Regions from separate parts of the Homo sapiens genome. Here all the other regions are reported to be linked to region 1. Evidence: microRNA targets listed by miRTarBase, many of them from high-throughput screens and not tested one by one. Region 1 holds a microRNA gene; each other region holds the end of a gene's coding sequence.

Evidence for each region. Region 1 holds the annotated microRNA hsa-miR-6779-5p (CUGGGAGGGGCUGGGUUUGGC, at 1,225-1,245, opposite strand). A microRNA usually pairs through its seed, bases 2 to 8, with sites in the 3' UTR of a target mRNA and lowers its output. Matches are read on the target gene's strand: a 7mer-m8 pairs with bases 2 to 8, a 7mer-A1 pairs with bases 2 to 7 and ends in A, and an 8mer does both.
Region 2: miRTarBase lists REEP3 as a target of hsa-miR-6779-5p. Seed matches in the 3' UTR shown: 7mer-A1 at 2,241-2,247 and 8mer at 2,773-2,780.
Region 3: miRTarBase lists ACAP2 as a target of hsa-miR-6779-5p. Seed matches in the 3' UTR shown: 7mer-m8 at 1,969-1,975.
Region 4: miRTarBase lists LRRC47 as a target of hsa-miR-6779-5p. Seed matches in the 3' UTR shown: 8mer at 773-780, 8mer at 946-953 and 8mer at 2,618-2,625.

Annotation. Positions count from the first base shown.
Region 1 is chr17:38,913,113-38,916,228 of GRCh38, reverse strand. MIR6779 (microRNA 6779) reads right to left here and starts at 1,250; the gene lies at 1,187-1,250. It overlaps LASP1 (LIM and SH3 protein 1), which reads right to left. Exons shown (of 7, transcript NM_006148.4): 5 at 1,754-1,904; 6 at 1,083-1,186.
Region 2 is chr10:63,620,187-63,623,302 of GRCh38, forward strand. REEP3 (receptor accessory protein 3) reads left to right here. Exons shown (of 8, transcript NM_001001330.3): 8 at 627-3,116. The coding sequence ends at 683. The region is part of intron 1 of LOC105378329 (a long non-coding RNA gene); the gene reads right to left. Among named protein-coding and RNA genes, the nearest start is that of REEP3, 100 kb to the left of the region's middle.
Region 3 is chr3:195,276,698-195,279,813 of GRCh38, reverse strand. ACAP2 (ArfGAP with coiled-coil, ankyrin repeat and PH domains 2) reads left to right here. Exons shown (of 23, transcript NM_012287.6): 23 at 386-3,116. The coding sequence ends at 486. Among named protein-coding and RNA genes, the nearest start is that of XXYLT1, 7.1 kb to the right of the region's middle.
Region 4 is chr1:3,778,531-3,781,646 of GRCh38, reverse strand. LRRC47 (leucine rich repeat containing 47) reads left to right here. Exons shown (of 7, transcript NM_020710.3): 6 at 46-135; 7 at 311-3,088. The coding sequence ends at 559. Among named protein-coding and RNA genes, the nearest start is that of SMIM1, 7.3 kb to the right of the region's middle.

The sequences.
Region 1 (3,116 bases):
TCTCTTCACAGCGTGTCACCGCTGACCTTATGTTATACACCTATTTTCTTATTGTTTTCTTGTTTGTCCCCCTGACTGGAATGTAAGCCCCCAGAGGGCAGAGAGGTGGCTTTATATTCAGAGATGGACCCTACACATCCAGGACAGACCCATTGAGGAGGGAGGGACTGGCTGGGCTGCCTGGAACCTTATACTTCAGACTAACTCTTGCGCCCACAGTGCCCTGGGCAGTCCTAACATCCCTTTGTTTGTGTGCCCAGAGCATCAGACTCCAGCCAGCCATTATCTCAGGCGATTTTATCTCTCTAAGTATCTGTTCTGCTCCTACGTGAGCTACTTTGAATTCCCAGGCACCCAGCCTGGAGGCGCTGAGCCTGCCAGGAGCTTGGTAAGGGTGGCTCAGCGGCACCCATGGGTGGAGTGAGTGGCAGGACTTACAGAGCCGGGACTTCAGCTCTGAGGGCTCAGGAAGCCTGATCTCACCCCATTCCTGCTGGGCTTATTCACTTGCTCTAGGCCTGGCTCAGAGTAGGTGAACCAGACGGACGCTGCCAGGGTCCCCAGCCCAGCAGGGGACACAGAGAAGGTGACCAACACGAAGAGCTCTTTTTAGTTGGAAAAAGTGCTCTGAAGGCAGCCAGCGGAGTCGAGTGATGCAAAGCATCAGGGTGATGCGCTTTACACGACATGGCTGGGGAGGCCCCTCAGAGGCAGGGGCAGCCTGAGAGCTGAAGGATGTGGGGGCCATCCTCATGAAGCGAGGAGAGCAGCGCCCAGTGCTGGAAGGCCCCATGCAGAAAGTTGCCTTGTGTGTTCCCAGGTAGCTGGGGTAAGGAAACCCCACCCAAAGCAGGGTGAGCAACCTGCCCATGGTACACCAGGGCTGGAACGCAGGGCCCCAGTCCCAGCCAGCCTCTGCCCACTACGCCAACCAATTTCCTCTCTGCTCACAAGGCTGAGATCCTTATCATCACACACAACAGAGGGTGGGTGCAAAGGTCAGGAGAATCCATGAGCTGTGTCCAAGCCTTCCCGAAGGACCCCCTGCCTCTGGCCTCTCCCCTCCGGCCAGGGTTACTCACCCCGCCACCACCTGGGGCGCTGCGCTGTATGGAGACTGGGGCTGCAGGCTCCTTGTAGCCACCATAGGACTGGGCCACCGGCTGCTGCTGGGGCTGCTGGTAAACTGGAAGATGGGAGGAGACAGGGCTTGGAAACTGTCCTGCCAAACCCAGCCCCTCCCAGAGCTCCCGAGAAGTCCATACCATGCACTTCCACCCCGCCCCCAACCTGGCTCAAGCCCCACAGCTCAAAGGCTGATGTCCACGTGTGCACATTTGCCTGTGTGTTGTATCCCACGCAGGGGCTCTGAGCCCCATGACCTGGGGGCCTCTCCTTTCAATCCTCTTGGCCCAGTACAGGCCTGACCCTGGTGCTCACGTCCTCATTCTGGATGAGAATGGAACTTGGGGTCTTGGGAAGCAGTCTTTTCCTCGCCTGCATGCGTGCGTGCATGTGTGTGTGTGTGTGTGTGTGTGTGTGTGTGTGTGTCTGTCTCTCGCCGACTTCCTCCCCACCCCAGCTGGCCCGGCCTCAGGTCCTCTGGTCCCCTCTTGCACACAAGAGGCATAATCGCCTGTTGATTAAGAGCAAGGCTCCGGAAGGTGTATCTGTCTGTCTGTCTTCTCCTGGCTTCCTCCCCACCCCACTGGCCTCGCCTCAGGTCATCTGCACCAACAGGACCTGCACTCACCCGGGGCACTGGTCGGGATGTGGTGAGGCTGCTGCTGCTCCAGGGGCCGCCGGTAGCTGCTGCCGTCCTGTGAATCCCGACGCTCTGGCTCCATGCCCTCGCCCCCGCTAGGGCCCATGCGGCTCTTCTCAAACTCCTCATGGTATTTTATCTGCAAGGTCAGAAGGCACTAGGTGAAGGGTCCCACTGCAAACCACCCAGTTCCTTCCCGTGACCCTCAAGATCCCAGGATGGGAGAGACTACCCAAGAGCTTTGGGTACAGAAAGCCAGGTCTCGCTCTGGAAGCACCAGCTGTGTGTCCTTGGACAAGCTACCTAATCTTGCCAAGCCTCAGTTTTCACCTCTGCAAAATGAGACACCAGTCTCCCTCAGACACTGTTGGAGAATGCAATGAAATGACCGATGTAAAAGGACCATGAGAACTGAAGAATCAGACCAAAGTGAGTGGTCCCTTTTCTTTTTTTTTTTTTTTCGAGACGGAGTTTGGCTCTGTCGCCCAGGCTGGAGTGCAATGGTACGATCTCAGCTCACCGCAACCTCCACCTCCAGGGTTCAAGTGATTCTCCTGCCTCAGCCTCCTGGGCGGCTGGGATTACAGGCGCCTGCCACTACGCCCAGCTAATTTTTTGTATTTTAATAGAGACAGGGTTTCATCATGTTGACCAGGCTGGTCTCAAACTCCTGACCTCAGGTGATCCACCCGCCTCGGCCTCCCAAAGTGCTGGGATTACAGGCGTGAGCCACCGTGACCGGCCAAGTGGTCACTTTTATATGCCTGCGGCAGGGGCGGGGCTGCTCTGTTTCCGCCTGGGTCCACAGTAACCACAGCAGCAGCCCGTTTCCTGAGCTCTTACTGCGCCAGGGCCGTGCTAGGTGTTTTATGTCACAGGCTCATGTGAGCTCGTCAGCGCCCCTGAGGGGTAGATTGCAGACCCCATGTAACAGGCAAGAAGGAAGCGAAGGGATTGATAAGTGAAGTGAGTGGCCCAAGATCACAGATTCCAGAGCCTTGCTCTTCATCAACAGGCGATTCCACCTCTTGTGTGCAAGATGTCGTGGGTACTACAGCCTAGGATGCTCCGCTGAGAATCCCAGCCTTTAGGGATAAAAACTGCCAGACCCTCCCTGAGGGCGGGACATTGTCTTGGATGGGCTCCTTCTCGGGTCAGGTTCCAAAAATGAGCAGAGAGGCCCAAAGAAGTCATATCCCTCAGGACCACCCCACTAGGCGGGCATGTGAGGCTCCAAGCCTTCAAGTCAGTCTCTTGCCCCCACAGTGCTCTACTGGCTACAGAGTCCCCCACCTTGACCACCACCACCCAGGAGTCTTGAGTTGGGCCTCATGTTGTTTGAGGGCTGTGA
Region 2 (3,116 bases), not on the chromosome of region 1:
CCTCTCGAAGTGCTGGGATTCCAGGCGTGAGCCACCTCACCTGGCCAGCAGTTTATATTTAAAATTCTTTATTCAGATCAATGTATCAGGATATCAGGAAATTTTGAAAATGGTAAACTCTTAATCTTCTGCTATACGTAGAAAATGGCATTCTCATTTAGCAAATCACATAGTTCAAATACCCAGTCCCAGCCCTATGCATAAACAAAGAAAGCAATGAATAAAATTAACCACACAGTTTTGCTTTCAACTAATGCTACATGAAGATTAAATAGTAAACAGTTAACCATAATAACATATTGTCTTTATACCCAGAAAGCAGTGGAGGACTGTGAATGGCCTCTGATCATTATAATCAATGTTCATTGACATTGTACTAAGCAAAACATAAATAATAGGATTAATGTTTTTATGTTATTAGTAATAATCTGTAACATATATCTAAATATTACCAACTACATTTTTTATGAGTTTATAAGTAGTGCTGTCTTATATACATTTATTAAGAGAATTCATTCTTTATATCAAAAAGGTAAAAAAATTACTATGATTATGAACTATTAAATCTGATGTAATTTTTTAAAGTAATCATCTAATTCTTAATAATAAAACATTTCTCTCTTCAGGTGCGGTACGGGTCACTAAAATACAAAGTGAAGAAACGACCACAAGTGTATTTTTAGTCATCTACACGTCAAATATCCCAAGACAGATTATGCTAAATACATCGACTTCATCTTCTAACATGATATATTCAGGATTTACACATTAAAATGATTATTTAAATTGTGGCAGTGATGGGGTTTACTTTCATGAATTTAAATTGTTTTTATTTCTGTAACAATTGCTTCCAAATATTGACTACTAAAGGCAGTTCTGCAAGATGTACTAAATATGTATATTAGAAATTATAGAAAATCATGTTGTCCGTTTTCAAATTCATCAACAGCCTAGAGTGCCTGAGATATAAGATGAAACACAAATCCACAGTATACTTGAAAGGAGCCTTTTTACGGTTCAGGATAAATCAGCCTTTGTGATGTACTGTGTTTACCTCCTTTTGTGTTGTATCTGGTAATTAAATAGGCCTCAGATTCAGCAGTGACATAACAAGGACATAATGTAAGATAATAAAGTAGGTTTTATATATTCTTTAAATTTTTACTTATATAATACTTTCTAGTTTTTCCACCATCAGCTGAAAGTTTTTGAAACAAATATTTGAAAACCAGGTATCCACACATAGCACTTTTATTCCTGACTAGTTTTGCACACTTGAAAATTGTTTACTTATTTTACAACTGTTTTACTGATGCTATCTTTATTGTTTTTGCCGTATTCTGACATGTCAAATCTATGCCTTGAATTATATCATCTCTTTTCCTGTGGGTTTCATTTGTTAAATTCATTGGATTTTAATAATATAAAAGTATAGCTAATTGTTCAGTTTTAACTATTTTTAATTATCTTCTTAACAAATAAGAAGTTGCTTTAAACATTAACCAATTTTCTATATTTAGCTATACAGAGTAATTGAACTTAACATGTTTTTGTCAACACCAATTACATTTTCAGCTTTTAAAAATGGTAGCTTTTGTGAAATAGAATCAGTGACCAGTATAGCACTTAGATCCCTTCTAACTCATATAATTTTTCTCAGCCAATCCATTCACAAGCTTGGCATTGACATGTGCTGCTAGTTTATAAACTGGCATTGACGAAAATCATTTGAATCTCTTCTGGCTGAGATAATTTGCCAATGCAAAATACAGTTGTCATTAATCCTGCACATTAGAAATTATTAGAAACATATTACTTTTTAACTTTAAATCTCAAAGAGATTTTGAGTTATTGAATTCTTAAGGCTTTCTTAGCTTGAACTGATAACTATGCATTATGAACCCTAAGTCAATATATTTTTGGTGGTTTTAGTGATCAGTAATCAAATTTGTACTTATTATGCTTGTTCAGGTAATTTACTTGACTGTTCTATTTGTTTGTCCAAAAGATAAAATGATGAGAGAGATTCGAGAGGTCTTTGATCTGTCTCCCTTTTAAGAAATGAAGCCAGCTGGTAATGTATATTCAGGACTTCCTCAGAGTATTGGCCAAGAACATAATGTTTACACAGGAGTACCTTGGTATAATGCATACATTGTCTCATGATACTAGTCATAAAATATTTTATGGATTATTTCACATTCTTCATATATAACAAGTAAAATTAATTCAGTTTTCTTCTCCCAACGTTTAATTCTGAATAACTCTATCTACTTTACCCTAATTTTTAGCCTCTTAATTTCTGGAAGGACTCTAATTTCTATTCCAAATTTCTATGAATTCTAATTGTAAATTATCGGAACAGAGTTTTATTTATATGACCTGGTACTAGACTTCTTAATATAACTGTTACACTGTCCTTGTCTTTCCTACTCAAAGACAGTATCATCTGAAGTTGCCTAATAAGGTCATGTGAGTCAAGAACTTTATCTGTGGGAGCTGATTTGCACCATTTTACCTTTTTTTTTTTTTTTTTTTTGAGACGGAGTCTTGCTCTGTCACCAGGCTGGAGTGCAGTGGCGCGATCTCGGCTCACTACAACCTCTGCCTCCCGGGTTCGAGCGATTCTCCTGCCTCGGCCTCCCGAGTAACTGGGTCTACAGGCCCGTGCTACCACGCCCAGCTAATTTTTGTCTTTTTAGTAGAGACAGGGTTTAACCATGTTGCCCAGGATGGTCTCCATCTCTTGACCTCGTGATCCGCCCGCCTCGGCCTCCCAAACTTCTGGGATTACAGGCGTGAGCCACCGCACCCAGCCACCATTTTATCTCTCTAAAGTCTGGTCCCAGTATTAAACCTATTCTTTAGTAAACTCATATTACTGTTCTAAATTGAAGAAATTATTTATTACTCTGTACTTCTAGACTCAAAATTCTTTATCAAAGATAGTCTCAAAGAGGTAGTACAAGTCCTGTTTAACTGCACTTTTTCACATTCACAGTGCTTCCTCTGATATCTTTCCTTACATCATTATACACTGTTGATATCATTTTACTCTTCTTTCTCTTCTACATTTCTTAAATTTTGGTTCTTTTCCTGTACATGTGTTTTAGCGG
Region 3 (3,116 bases), not on the chromosome of region 1:
ATTTCTTTTGGCCTTTATCAAGGGAAATATTTATTTAAAGAAGGTCTCATTTACTCCACCTCATTTAGAATGACTTTTCCCCCCCGTGTGTTAATAAACGTATTTCTTTACATTGCTTTAAAACACTTGCATCTTTGCTCTTTTCTAACTCTGAGCTTTCTTCTGTGGCTGCATCTGAGGTGCTTTTTTCAGGTATAGTTTTTTTTTTTCTTTCATTGCATAATTTTTCAGCATTTATTTTTAGTTGCCCCTTTTCTTCCAAAAATGCTCATCTGAACAAAATTTTAATGTAATGAATTATAAAATAGTACTAGTAATAAATATGAATGTTGTTTGATTAATACTTGTGTAAATGTTTAAAGTGTCTTTATTTTATTTCATGCAGGTGATGAAACTTATCAGGACATATTTCGTGATTTTTCCCAAATGGCATCCAATAATCCAGAGAAACTAAATCGTTTCCAGCAAGATTCACAGAAATTCTGAATTTTTTTAAAAATGGGAAAATATGAAATCTGGTGACCCCCTAATGTATACAGCTAAAAAATCACAATTTTTTTACTGCTTTAATTCTACTTAATTTTGGTAGATATTGAATGGCTTGGAAAAGAGGTACCCATTCATATATTTATAAATTAAAACATAGTTATCTAGTAGTAGGAGAGGAACCTAGTTTAGGACCTCTTTTATTAAAAAAGCCTATTTAAAGGGCTATTTCTGTAGACAGAAGTTCAGTCTAGATTTAGGCCATCTCTAGGTTACAAGATGATAGGAGGTTAGACAAAAGTGATTCTTTTGCCAATGGGTGGTGGCATTGATTTTTTTCCTCCATGCATCTTGCCCAGGATCACTCAGTCAAGCATGTCTTCATCAAGTGGAAGCCAACTGTCCTGCCTGCCTCAAGAATATGTGTTTTCTTTAGCTTCCCTGAGGCTTTTTGGTGGTTCAGAAATAGGTGTGTGTGTTGATGTGTTTTTGGTAACCTAGCTTTCATACACATAATATATGATTTATTAGAACTAGAGAATGTGTTTTCCCCGTTTGTTCATAAATGCGGTCGGTTATACTTCTTAGGTGACAGGTTATTGTCCAGTACTTTAATGTATGTATGTATAATGGCTGTACAGGTAGACCATAATTCAGTCCTTTAGATTTATTTTATGCAGCAAAAAGAAGCTCTTTTTTTTTTTTAATCACAAAAAAAAACCCCAGTTCAAAATGTGTAGTTCTTCATTGTTGGGTTGATTCCCCAAAACCTTGACAGATGTATCGATGGAATAAAAGTATGTTTTAAAGGTTACTTGAATGTCACAAAATTATGCCTTCATCAAAACTTTAAAGGAAAAATCAATTTATAAAATCATGTAGGCCATTTTTATATTTGAAATTTGTCCTTTTAAAGATAGTTTTGCTGTTGCTCCTAGTGAAAGAAAAATCTCTGTACAAAGGAGAAAAAGAACCCCACTTATTCTTAGTTAATACTAAAATATATAGCAATAAATTGCTGTTTATTTTTTCTACATCTATTTTGTGTACTTGTACACAGTGTACATTCTTTTAAATTATATCGTGTATATAGCTTTAGTATTCGGTTACATGATTCACAGACCCCTGAATTCCAAAATATTATGGATAAACATTACCATTTATATGCTACAAATTAGTCTGATTCCATCTTTGAAAATGTCTTAAAGTATAAAATAATTAATTTGCTTTTTTTTTTTTTTTTTCCCGAGATGGCGTCTTGCTGTGTCACCCAGGCTGGAGTGCAGTGGCACGATCTCAGCTCACTGCAGCCTCCTCCTCTTGGGTTCAAGCAATTCTCCTGCCTCAGCCTCCCGAGTAGCTGGGACTACAGGCACCCGCCACCATTCCGAGCTAATTTCTATATTTTTAGTAAAGACGGGTTTCACCATTTTGGCCAGGTTGGTCTCGAACTCCTGACCTCAGGTGATCAGCCTGCTTTAGCCTCCCAGAGTGCTGGGATTACAGGCGTGAGCCACCGCACCCAGCCTAATTTGCCTTTTGATTCCTTCCCATTGTTGTCAACAATTAAGTCTATTCTTCTTTTAGAAATTATATGTAAATGATATTATTGATACTCTTTCTAAATAAGAGGTTTTAAAATATATAAAAACTTTATGATCCAATTATAGATAAATTTTCTAACATTTCCCAGTCACTAGGGTTTTATAAGTTGATTAAACATCAAATCAGAATCTAGCCAAGCAGGAATTATATTGAAATAAGTTCACATTACAGAAAAGGTTCCATAATTTGGCCAAACTGCATGCATGTAATGCTTATTTAGTAATGGTCACTGTATGTTAGATAAGGATAAAAATATATTTGTGAATTACTTCTGAGGAAATGCTAACTTCCACAGCATTGTATTTAATTATAACAATAACAGGAACATTAAATCTTTATCTTTGCTGTTTCACCTCAAAGTCATAGATCATCTGGCTTTTTAGGCACCTTCACTAAAGGCAAAAATCTGATTTGTAGTTTTTATTAGCATGTACCTTGAAATTATTTGACCAAGAAGCTCAAAGAAAAGAAGTACGTTAAAGAAAAAGAAAAAACCTCACTTTTCCTTTATAGTGTCCCTTCCTGTTTTAATTCCTAAAGATCCTGACTTTTATCTGAGGAAGTCTAGGTAGTTTTCCTTTTGGATCTGGCCATTGGTGCGTGTTTCATTCAGATCACCTCTGGAATCTCTGTGGTTGTGAAGGCAATTCCTTATGAGACTCTTGCCTCCTGTGGCTTACGTGATGAATTGTTAATATGGCAGTAATTAATTAGTATCTACTTAAATTTAGTGGTCAGAAATGTATTTGAAGTGCCTTAAAGATGATCATGGTTCAGAATATCTTCAGAGAAAGCAAAATCTTTAATATTGCAGGGAGCCTAGCAATACAAGTACACATTTCTGTGGCTTGATTTCTTGAATATGCTGAGACCCAATTTGGACTACATTTGGCAGAAATGATGGAGTAAACAGCAAGGCTTTAAATTAAATTAATAGTTACAAGGTAGGTTGGCTCTTAGGTGAATTTAGCCATGTCAACTAATAGCTTTTATATGGTATGTAACAAATCTGAATTATGTTATGC
Region 4 (3,116 bases), not on the chromosome of region 1:
TACATTTGATAACTGTTCTTTTCTGAAATGTTTTTTTCTTTTAAGGTTAAGAAAACGACTTCTGATTTGTTTTTGGAAGTAACAAGTGCCACCAGTCTGCAGATTTGCAAGGATGTCATGGATGCCCTCATTCTGGTGAGTGTGGGGTGGCTCCTCCTGAGAAACGCTTTTGAGCGTGAGTGGTGCTCTGCTCCTTGACTTCCCACCCGTCCTGCTTGCCTCTTTTTTGCTTACTGTGTTGGCAGACAGCAGCATGTCTTCCCTGGGTCACCTCTCATCTCCAGGTTAAAAAGGTATTTTTTATTTGCAGAAAATGGCAGAAATGAAAAAGTACACTTTAGAAAATAAAGAGGAAGGATCACTCTCAGATACTGAAGCCGATGCAGTCTCTGGACAACTTCCAGATCCCACAACGAATCCCAGTGCTGGAAAGGACGGGCCCTCCCTTCTGGTGGTGGAGCAGGTCCGGGTGGTGGATCTGGAAGGGAGCCTGAAGGTGGTGTACCCGTCCAAGGCCGACCTGGCCACTGCCCCTCCCCACGTGACTGTCGTGCGCTGACGCCAGGGCCGCCTGTCCGCGTTTGTTTGGCCGGTTTTGCGGAGGTTTCTATGCGGCAATGCTGAATTATCCGTTAGATTTTCACCCCAGTTTTTTTGTTGGTTTTTTTTTTTGAGATGGAGTCTCGCTCTGTCGCCAGGCTGGAGTGCAGTGGCGTGATCTCGAGTCACTGCAGCCTGTGTCTCCTGGGTTCAAGCGATTCTCCTGCCTCAGCCTCCCAAGTAGCTGGGACTACAGGTGTGTGCCACTAAGCTCAGCTAATTTTTGTATTTTTAGTAGAGACGGGGTTTCACCATTTTGACCAGGATGGTCTTGATCTCTTGACCTCATGATCTGTCCACCTCTGCCCCTCAAAGTGCTGGGATTACGTGATCCACCCGCCTCAGCCTCCCAAAGTGCTGGGATTACAGGCGTGAGCTGTGCCTGGCCCACCCCAGCATTTTTTAAGATGTATGTATTCGTTGTTCTGTTTTTCCAGATGATTCTGTCGTAAAGTGATGCTATGTTGTCGTTACAACATCAAAGTGATTTTACGGTTTTTGATGGGATTATTCAAGTGTCAGAATTAACTGTTCAAAATGTTCTGAATCATGTAGATACATGGCAGGTAACTGTTTATGGGAGAAAAGTACAGTGCTGTTACGTGGCACTGTACAGTCATGTGCCACGTAACAGCGTCTGGGTCAGTGACGGACACTTACCTGACAGCGGATCCACAATATTCTCGTGCAGTGTGTTTGGAATCCTGGTCTGGGCTCTCGTCGTTGGCCTTGTAGATCAAGTAGGGGAAGTGAGTGATGTTCAGTCATGCTGCTGGGACACTTGGTTTTCCAGATGAAAACACATAAATAAAACTACATGCACCATCGAGGCTTGTGTAAAGACTCTGTGATCACACAGCAGCGGCTAAGCACACGTTTCTCATGTGTCACTGAGCGACACGTGACTGTCACTGGTTCGGAGACCCGAAAACTTGGGAAGCCAACCGATGTGCGTTTCCTTGAACGGCACGGTCACTTTCTATGACGCAGCATCTTGTAAAACCATATCATGCCAGGATGCAGCTTGGCATGTGCAAGGGCGTTGGGTTCTCCAGCTGGCAGTGATCATAATCTTGGGGGGAAAAGTTTTAATGTGACCTTAGAATTGGCAGAATTGCGTCTCTTCATACTGCTGTTGGATTGCTTTGTGGGGGTGGAGATGTGGAGACCCCTTCAGGCAAGCAGCCTGTAGGCTGAAGGCAGTGGCAGCACCTCACCCTGGCTCAGCGGGGCCAAGCGGAGGAGAGCGGCATCGGTGGGGTTTCCATCGTGTGCACGCTGGTGCTGCAGTGACAGGCAGGTGGAGCCCCAGGAGTGGACCAGACGCCTCTGCTTGGGAAGCATCGGCAGTCCTCAGCCAGCCGAGGGACAGATGGTAGCAAAAGCTGGAGGATGCTTAGGTTTTTGAGCCAAAAATCTTCATTTATGCGCCAGAAAGGTGGGTCCTGGGCGCCTTCTGTTGTAGACGTTTCCGTTGTGAATGTCCAGGTCAGACCCCCACGTCCATGTGTCTTCGTGTATGTCCAGGCACCACATGTGCGTGCACACCACTCCCGGGAGTCAGTGTGCTTGGCTCATGAGGACACGGCCAGCCACCGCGATGATTTTACAGACCCCACTGCCTTACGATCTGGGTGCCATGTGAGAAGCAGACTCATCAGCTTTATCGAATGACACCATTTGTTCTCTGTTCAGTGTCTCGATTTCTGTGTCTGTAGAAATGACTGGTGATTTTGGGAAGCATCTGCAAGAGCCCCACAGCCCACACACCTTTAGTTGTCAACCTGAGAGGCCCGGGGCCCTGTGCAGTGGGCAGACTAACAGCTGGGTGGCTCTTCAGAGCCTTGCAGGACATGGGCCAGGCTGCCTTGAGACCTGGACCCACTTGTCTGGTCACCGCCAGGCCTTCCCGTCTCGCCCACTGTGGGAGGGAGGGGACTCCAGACAGGACGAGGCCCACACACTCAGTGCCAGCTGGACTGCCGTGGGTGTGTCAGATGACTGCCTTGCCTTGTGTCCTCCCAAAACCTGATTCCTGCTGCTCTGGGCAGTCAAGGCAGATGCCACAGTTGGCCAGGGGCCTGCCCTGCTGGAGGCTTGAGGCGGCACGGGGGCTTCCCCAGGCCAGGACTCTGCTGGAGTTCTGGGGCTGGGGACCCCAGACAGTTGCTCTGAGAGGTGATTTGGGGCTGCCATGGCAGAGGCTGCCCTTTCTCTGCATGGCCCGGCCCAGCCCGGGAAGGAGGAAGGGAGGAAGGGAGGGATGCTGGAGCTGCCATCTTGGCTCCCGGGGACTTGGTGTCCATGCTGTAACACATCTGTCACTGCGTGGGTGTGGATGAGGCTGCCACATGCTGTGCCCTTTCCTGATGCAGCTTGTGATGCGTGAGATGCTGGAAATGTATTTAACTCGCAGCACAGGTGTCTCTGATGTTTTCTTCACCCCACCCCACCCCCCGACTCACTAATAAAAACAGCTCCGCACCTGGCCCAGCAGATCCTTTCCCACCGGCACT